Regions from separate parts of the Homo sapiens genome. Here region 1 is linked to region 2. Evidence: fine-mapped expression QTL. A gene starts in region 2. The other region holds a variant in brackets. All regions are shown on one strand. Distances are from middle to middle. Region 1 overlaps ARPC1B (actin related protein 2/3 complex subunit 1B). Region 2 holds the start of ZNF789 (zinc finger protein 789).

Region 1 (4,383 bases), 83 kb before region 2:
AGAATTGCTTGAACCCGGAAGATGGTGGTTCCAGTGAGCTGAGATCGTGCCAGTGCACTCCAGCTTGGGCGGCTGAGCGAGACTCTGTCTCAAAAAAAAAAAAAAAAAAAAAAGATTGGTGGTACACACCTGTAGTCCCGGCTACTCAGGAGGCTGAGGCACGAGGATTGCTTGAACCTGGGAGGCAGAGGCTGCAGTGAGCTGAGATCATGCCACTGCACTCCAGCCTGGGTGACAGAGCGAGACTCTGTTTCAAAAAAAAAAAAAAGTGCCTGCTGGGCAGATACAGCTTCCACCTGGATGGTGGCCTTTCAGCCTCTCCCATGTGGCCACCATACAGCCACCTCTGCCTGAGTGTCATCAGCCTCCTGTGTTCCCTCCATCCCCCCACAGGCATCGACTGGGCCCCCGAGAGTAACCGTATTGTGACCTGCGGCACAGACCGCAACGCCTACGTGTGGACGCTGAAGGGCCGCACATGGAAGCCCACGCTGGTCATCCTGCGGATCAACCGGGCTGCCCGCTGCGTGCGCTGGGCCCCCAACGAGAACAAGTTTGCTGTGGGCAGCGGCTCTCGTGTGATCTCCATCTGTTATTTCGAGCAGGAGAATGACTGGTGGGTACCTAGGCAGGGCCAGAGTGGGCTGTTAGGGACCGGGGGCAGGACTAGAGTGTCCCCGGGAAGCACCAAATGGGATGTCAGGACCCCTGTTCCCATCACCCTGGGGGAGTCCATCCTCTCCTCTCTGGGCCTCATTCATGAGGCAAGGGCCTCTCTGCAGCGTCCGGATGTTCTCACTGCCAGTGACACCCACCACACCAGAAACACATCTGGGGGCACCTCACTAAGCCCTGCACACACATTAGTCCTGACTTCCCTGCAGCTCCGTGGACTGGGCATCGGTCACTGTCCCCACTTTACAGATTAGCAAAGGCCCTGTAGCAGTCACTTTCTCAAGGCACCACTCACGAGCTCGCAGCCACATCTTGTTCCTTTTTTTTTTTTCAGATGGAGTCTCACTCTGTCACCCAGGCTGGAGTGCAGTGGCACGATCTTGGCTCACGGCAGCCTCTGCCTGCCGGGTTCGAGCAGTTCTCTGCCTCAGCCTCCCAAGTAGCTGGGATTACAGGCACCTGCTACCATGCCCGGATAATTTTTATATTTTTAGTAGAGATGGGGTTTCACCATCTTGGCCAGGTTGGTCTAGAACTTCTGACCTCATGATCCACCCGCCTCGGCCTCCCAAAGTGTTGGGATTACAGGCGTGAGCCACCGTGCCCAGCCAATTTTTTTTTTTTTTTTTTTTTTGAGACACAGTCTTGCTCTGTCGTCCAGGCTGGAGTGCAGTGGCACAATCTCAGCTCACCGCAACCTCTGCCTCCCAGGTTCAAGCAATTCTCCTGCCTCAGCCTACTGAGTAGCTGGGACTACAGGCACGCACCACCACGCCAGGCTAATTTTGTATTTTTTAGTAGAGATGGGGTTTCTCCATGTTGGTCAGGCTGGTCTTGAACTCCTGACCTCAGGTGGTCCTCCTGCCTCCGCCTCCCAAAGTGCTGGGATTACAGGCGTGAACCACTGCGCCCGGCCATATATATATTTTTGAGACAAGGTCTTGCTCTGTCGCTCAGGCTGGAGTGCAGTGTTGTGATCATAGCTCACTGCAGCCTCAGCCTCCTGAGCTCAAGTAATCCTACCACTTCAGCCTCCTGAGTAGCTCGGACTACAGGCCCAAATCATTTATTTATTTATTTTGTAGAGATAGGGTCTTGTCACGTTGTCCAGGCTGGTCTTGAACTCCTGGCCTCAAGCAATCTTCCCACCTCAGCCTCCCAAAGTGCTGAGACTACAGGTGTGAGCCATGATTGCCAGTCCAC[G/A]TCTTAGTTTTTAATCTCCCCTGCATGGCTGAGGGCAGAGGCCAGCCAGGAGCATCTGAGAGACCCAAATTTGCATCCCACCATGGCCAGTTAGTAGTTGTGTGACCTCTGGTGATGGCATCACTTTGCTGAGCCTGCTCTGAGGGTGACTGTGTGGCCTAAAGGATAGAGGGCACAGAGTTCCCACTCCAGAAGCGACACAGCACATCCCTGCCGCCCCAGGGCCCTGACGGCCTTGTGGGCTGGCAATGCCCAGTCGCCTCTCTCCTGGGTCTTTGGTGGGCTGCAGGGAGCAGTGGGAGCCTGGAGTCCCTGGTGCTGAGGTCCATGAGTCCCACCTGCCTGTCCCTCTCTCCCTGTCTGCCTGACCACCGTTCCCAGGTGGGTTTGCAAGCACATCAAGAAGCCCATCCGCTCCACCGTCCTCAGCCTGGACTGGCACCCCAACAATGTGCTGCTGGCTGCCGGCTCCTGTGACTTCAAGTGTCGGTGAGACAGGGCGCCATGGGGGAGGGCGGGGCTGACGTCAACTGACTGCTGACATCATAGCGGGGAGCCGCACCTGAAAGCTCTACACCCCAGCTTCTAGACACATTCCAGACCTGCTACCAGTGGATGACCTGGGCGTCGGTTGAAGGTTCTAGTTCCTGGGGAACCCTTCATGTCTCAGCTGGATGGGCCTCTGCCCACCTCTTTTATTTTTTTTGAGCTAGGGGCTTGCTCTGTTGCCCGGGCTGGAATGCAGTAGTGCAATCATAGCTCACTGCAGCCTCCAAATCCTGGACTCAAGCGATCCTCTTGCTTCTCAGCCTCCCAAGCAAGACTACCACGCCCAGCTAGACAGGATTTTTTTTTTTTTTTTGGAGACGGACTCTCGCTCTTTCGCCCAGGCTGGAGTGCAGTGGCGTGATATTGACTCACTGCAACCTCCGCCTGCTGAGTTCAAGCGATCAAGCGATTCTCCTGCCTTAGCCTCCTGAGTAGCTGGAACTACAGGCGCATGCCACCATGCCCGGCTAATTTTTGTATTTTTAAATGTAGAGACGGGTTTTCACCATGTTGGCCAGACTGGTCTCGAACCCCTGACTTCAAGTGATGCATCTGCCTCAGCCTCCCAAAGTGCTGGGATTACAAGCTTCAGCCACCATGCCCAGGCACCTGTTAACCCTTTAAAAAAAATTTTTTTTTTTTTTTGAGACAGTCTCACTCTGTTGCCCAAACTGGAGCACAGTAGCGCAATCACAGCTCACTGCAGCCTTGACCTCCTGGGTTCAAGCAATCCTCCCGCCTCAGCCTCCTGAGTAGCTGAGAGTACAGGTGCGCACCACCATGCCTGGCTACTTTACCTCTACTTTGCCTATCCCGGTAGGATCTTTTCAGCCTACATCAAGGAGGTGGAGGAACGGCCGGCACCCACCCCGTGGGGCTCCAAGATGCCCTTTGGGGAACTGATGTTCGAATCCAGCAGTAGCTGCGGCTGGGTACATGGCGTCTGTTTCTCAGCCAGCGGGAGCCGCGTGGCCTGGGTAAGCCACGACAGCACCGTCTGCCTGGCTGATGCCGACAAGAAGATGGCGTGAGTCGAGGCCATCCCCAGGGGAGGAGGTGAGTGCAGAGGAGTGGGACACCGTGACTCACAGCTCTCTCCCCTCAGCGTCGCGACTCTGGCCTCTGAAACACTACCACTGCTGGCGCTGACCTTCATCACAGACAACAGCCTGGTGGCAGCGGTGAGGAATAGGGAGGGGAGGGAGGGTGTGTGGTCACAGCAGGCCTCCGAGAGAGCCCAGCAACTCTCATCTCCTCCCTCCTTTCTCCTGCCTCCCTCCTTTTTTTCTTCCTTGCATTCTCTCATGTACCAGAATTGGGCAGAACAGGTTGGGTTATGCTGCAGTAACCAAAAGTCCCTGGCTGCAGTTGCTTAACAGAGTAAAGATTTGGCCAGGTGCGGTGGCTCACACTTAAAATCCCAGCACTTTGCGAGGTTGAGGTGGAAGTATCACTGGAGGCCACGAGTTTGAGACCAGCCCGGGCAACACAGTGTGAGACCCTTGTCTCTACAAAAAGTTAAGAAATTAGCTGGGTGTGGTGGTGCACCTGTAATCTCATAATCCCAGTTACTTGGGAGGCTGAGGCAGGAGGATAACTTAAGCATGGGAGGTCGAGGCTTCTGAACTGAGCTATGGTCGTACCTCTGCACTTCAGCCTCGGCGACACAAAACCTGTCTCAAAAAAAAAAAAAAAAGAGCCAGGCCCGGTGGCTCACACCTGTAATCCCAGCAATTTGGGAGGCCAAGGAGGGCAGATCACCTGAGGTCAGGGGTTCAAGACCAACCTGGCCAACATGGCAAAACCCCATCTCTACTAAAAATACAAAAATTAGCCGGGTGTGGTGGTGGGCGCCCATGGTCCCAGCTGCTCGGGAGGCTGAGGCAGGAGAATTGCTTGAACCCAGAGGCAGAAGTTGCAGTGAGCCAAGGGTGAGCCACCGAGACTCCATCTCAA
Region 2 (4,383 bases):
CACTGCACTCAGCCAACACACATATGTTTATTGCAACACTATTTACAATAGCAAAGACATGGAACCAACCCAAATGCCCATCAGTGGTAGACTGGATAAAGAAAATGTGGTACAAATACACCATGGAATACTAAGCAGCCACAAAAAGGAATGAGATCCTGTCCTTTGCAGGGACATGGATGAAGCTGGTGGCCATCAGCCTCAGCAAACTAACACAGGAACAGAAAACCAAACACAGCATGTTCTCATTCATAAGTGGGAATTGAATATTGAGAACGCATGGACACAGAGAGGGGAACAACACACACCTGGGCCTTTTGGGGAGTCGGGGGTAAGGGGAGGGAACTTAGAGGATGGGTCAATAGGTGCAGCAAACCACCATGGCACATGTAACAAACCTGCACGTTCTGCACGTGTATCCTGTTTGTTTTGTTTTGTTTAGAAGAAATAAAAAACAAACAAAACTTGGGAGGCCAAGGCAGGCGGATCACTTGAGGTCAGGAGTTCGAGACCAGCCTGGCCAAAATGGTGAAACCCCGTCTCTACTAAAAACACACACACAAAAAAAATTAGCCGGGAGTGGTAGCGGGCGCCTGTAGTCCCAGCTACTCAGGAGGCTGACGCAGGAGAATGGCGTGAACCCGGGAGGCGGAGCTTGCAGTGAGCCGAGATCGCGCCACTGCACTCCAGCCTGGGCGAGAGCGAGACTGTCTCAAAAAAAAAAGAAAAAAAATTAACCCCTTACTCACATTAAAACTGTATTTTGGGGGTAATTTACATAAGCCACACAATTATCCTTTTAATTAAGATCTAATATTCTTTTTTTTTTTTTTGAGACAGAGTCTCGCTCTGTCGCCAGTCTGGAGTGCAGTGGTGGGATCTCGGCTCACTGCAAGCTCCGCCTCCCGAGTTCAAGTGATTCTCCTGCCTCAGCCTCCCGAGTAGCTGGCACTACAGGCACGCCGCCACCATGCCCAGCTAATTTTTTTTTTTTTTTTTTTTTTTTTGAGACGGAGTCTCGCTCTGTCACCCAGGCTGGAGTGCGGTGGCGCAATCTCGGCTCACCGCAACCTCCGCCTCCCGGGTTCAAGCGCTTCTCCTGCCTCAGCCTCCCGAGTAGCCGGGGTTACAGGCAGGCACCACCATGCCCGGCTAATTTTATTTGTATTTTTAGTAGAGACGGGTTTCTCCATTGTTGGTCAGGCTGGTATCGAACTCCCGACCTCAGGTGATCCACCCGCCTCGGCCTCCCAGAGTGCTGGGATTACAGGCGTGAGCCACCGCGCCCGGCAATTTTTTTGTATTTTTAGTAGAGAAGGGGTTTCACCATGTTGGCCAGGATGATCTAAATCTCTTGACCTGATCCGCCGGCCTCTGCCTCCCAAAGTGCTGGGATTACAGGCGTAAGCCACCGCGCCTGGCCCATTTTTCTTCTTTTATCTGATAACCTTACTCCCCTCCACAAACACACAGCCAAAGAAACGAATTGTGTCGCTCTTGAATCATAGAATAATTCTAAATTATGTTACGATTAAACAGGAGGGGCGGGGCCCTGTCCATCACGTGACTCTCTCGGTGCTGTCTCCGGCCGTTGATTGGCCTGGGCGGGGAGGGCGGCCGTTGATTGGTTCGGGCCCACTCGCGCGGGCGCCACTCTCTTTGTCTGACAAGAGAGTCGTGAAGCCTCCGCGGTCCTAGAGGGGCCGCTGGCTGGGACGCTTCGCTCGGCGCGCGCAGGTGGAGCCAGCGAGAGGCTCTGAGGCTGCCAGAGTGGTTGTGTCTGTTCCTCCGGTAAGGGGTGATTCGCCGAGGGGCGCGGACCAGACAGACCTCGGGTCAGGCCCGGGAACCCCGAGAGGAGAGCCCAGCCCCTGGTGGAGGCGGCTTGGCGGAGATTCGGAGCCGTCAGCAGGTTTGGGGAGAAGGAAACGAGTGTTGTGGGGGGCGTGGGTGCGGGGGGTAGGCCACTGCGCACACCCCCGGCTCGCAGGGGACGCTCCGGGTTTGTGCGGCGGCTCTCGGGGCCTGTGGCACCAGCTTTTGAGTATTTTTGGCGGTGTCAAGTCTTCGGCAGCGAGAGGAGCAAAGTCCGAAGAATGAATGGATGGTGAACGCCTGGACTTGGTTTTGTTAGAGTGGGAGATGAGCCGTGGTTGTTAGTGGAAGGTGTTCACGTGATTGTGAAGCGGCATTTTGGATTTTGTCAAAAGTTAACAGTCCCCTCCAGTTAAAGTTTTAAGAGTTTATTGTGCATGCAGAGGAACAGCTGGCAAATTGTTCCAATGGCAGCTTGGAAAGCTAAATGAGGAAGTGCAGTGATCTTGATTGTAATTGGCCATTATCAACTTGCATTCCTTCTAGGGTAAGTCGAGCTGGATCAGCCTCGCATCTGTAGCTGATTGGTTCAGTTTATCATGCGGACGAGAAAAAAGCTTCTTTCCTGGTCAGCGCACACTTTTCAGGGAAATAAGGAATTGTTGTTGCTGTTGTGTTTGAGACGAAGTGTTACTCTGTTGCCCAGTTTGGAGTACAATGGGCCAATCTCGACTCACTGCAACCTCCAACTCCCGGGTTCAAGCGATTCTCCTGCCTCAGCCTCTCGAGTAGCGGGGACTACAGGCACGCGCCACCATGCCCGGCTAATTTTTGTATTTTTAGTGGAGACTGGGTTTCACTATGTTGGCCAGGCTGGTCTTGAACTCCTGACCTCATGATCCGCCCGCCTCGGCCTCCCAAAGTGCTGGGATTTACAGGTGTGAGCCACCACGCCCGGCCTGTTGTTTTTAAGAGAGACAGGGTCTTGCTCTGTCACCCAGGGTGGAGTGTAGTGGTGCCATCATAGCTCATTGCAGTCTCCAACTCCTGAACTCAAGGGAGAAATCAATGTATTTTAAATGCCTTACATGGCTGTGGGTGGTTGGCCTAGGGCCGTACCCAAAACATGGACTCCATTTAATTTTTCATTAGCAAGTCTGACATTCAGATGCACAGCCTTCACAAACACATTCAGTAAATATAGTGCAGGGGTGTCCAATCTCTTGGCTTCCCTGGGCCACATTGGAAGAAGAATTGTCTTGGACTACACATAAAATACACAAACACTAAAAATAGCTCATGAGCTAAAAAAAAATCGCAAAACAATTTCATAAGGTTTTAAGAAAGTTTACGAGCCGGGCGCGGTGGCTCACGCCTGTAATCCCAGCACTTTGGGAGGCCAAGGCGGGAGGATCACGAGGTCAGGAGATCAAGACCATCCTGGCTAACACGGTGAAACCCCGTCTCTACTAAAAATACAAAAAATTAGCGGGGCGTGGTGGCGGGCGCCTGTAGTCCCAGCTACTCGGGAAGCTGAGGCAGGAGAATGGCGTGAACCCGGGAGGCGGAGCTTGCAGTGAGCCGAGATCGCGCCACTGCACTCCAGCCTGGGCGACAGAGCGAGACTCCACCTCAAAAAAAAAAAAAAGAAAGTTTACGAATTTGTGTTGGGTTGGATTCAAAGTCGTCCTGGGCCATATGCGGTCCACAGGCTGAGGTTTGGACAAGTTTGGTGTAGAGAATGAAAGGGATGAGGCCTTTGCTCCAGCCTTGGAGCCATTGATCAGGATAGTTTTTAGAGTGTACCTCTTTGCTTAAAAGGCAGAGGGTCCACCCTGGGCAACATAGCAAGGCCCCACCTACAAAAGAACTACAAACAACTGGGCGTGGTGGTGCACTCTTGCAGTCCCATCTGCTTAGGAGACTGAGGCAGGAGCATTGCTTAAGCCCAGGAGTTGGAAGCTACAGTGAGCCATGATTACACCACTGCACTCCAGCCTGGGTGATAGAGGGAGACTCCTCAAAAAAAAAAAGAAAGGCAAAGGGTCTTCTAAACTGTTTTCAGGGAAGGTGAACTGTGTTTGAGGGGCATCCATTAAAATGAAAGTGAATTTCATTAAAATTCATCCTGAGTTAGAAAGCAAGTCTGTAGGCTGGGCGCAGTGGCTCACGCCTGTAATCCCAGCACTTTGGGAGGCTGAGGTGGGTGGATCACCTGAGATCAGGAGTTCAAGACCAGCCTGACCAACATGGTGAAACCCCATCTCAACTAAAAATACAAAAAAGTAGCTGGGCATGGCGGCGGGTGCCTGTAATCCCAGCTACTTCCGGAGGCTGAGGCAGGAGAATCGCTTGAACCCAGGAGGCGGAGGTTGCAGTGAGCAGAGATCACACCATTGTACTCCAGCCTGCACAACAAGAGTGAAACTCTGTTTAAAAAAAAAAAAAAATCAAGTCTGTAATTGTTACTGTTGCTGAATCCTGCTAGCAAATCACCAGGCTAGAGGTGAGGGTTGAGTGACCCCTTTAGAACACTTTCAGAGGGGGCTTGTCAGCAGGTGGAGCTGG

The links. PIP is the estimated chance that this variant, and not a neighbour inherited with it, causes the effect. A credible set is the group of variants that fine-mapping cannot tell apart.
Region 1: its variant is the best candidate, but not a certain one, in a credible set for the expression of ZNF789 in lung (TOPMed, PIP 0.60).

Annotation. Positions count from the first base shown.
Region 1 is chr7:99,387,646-99,392,028 of GRCh38, forward strand. It overlaps ARPC1B (actin related protein 2/3 complex subunit 1B), which reads left to right. Exons shown (of 10, transcript NM_005720.4): 4 at 394-616; 5 at 2,260-2,367; 6 at 3,248-3,454; 7 at 3,533-3,608. Among named protein-coding and RNA genes, the nearest start is that of ARPC1B, 15 kb to the left of the region's middle. The variant G/A (reference allele first, on the strand shown) is at 1,879.
Region 2 is chr7:99,471,145-99,475,527 of GRCh38, forward strand. It overlaps ZNF789 (zinc finger protein 789), which reads left to right and starts at 1,746. Exons shown (of 5, transcript NM_213603.3): 1 at 1,746-1,912. RefSeq lists enhancers at 986-1,145, 1,366-1,455, 1,746-2,035.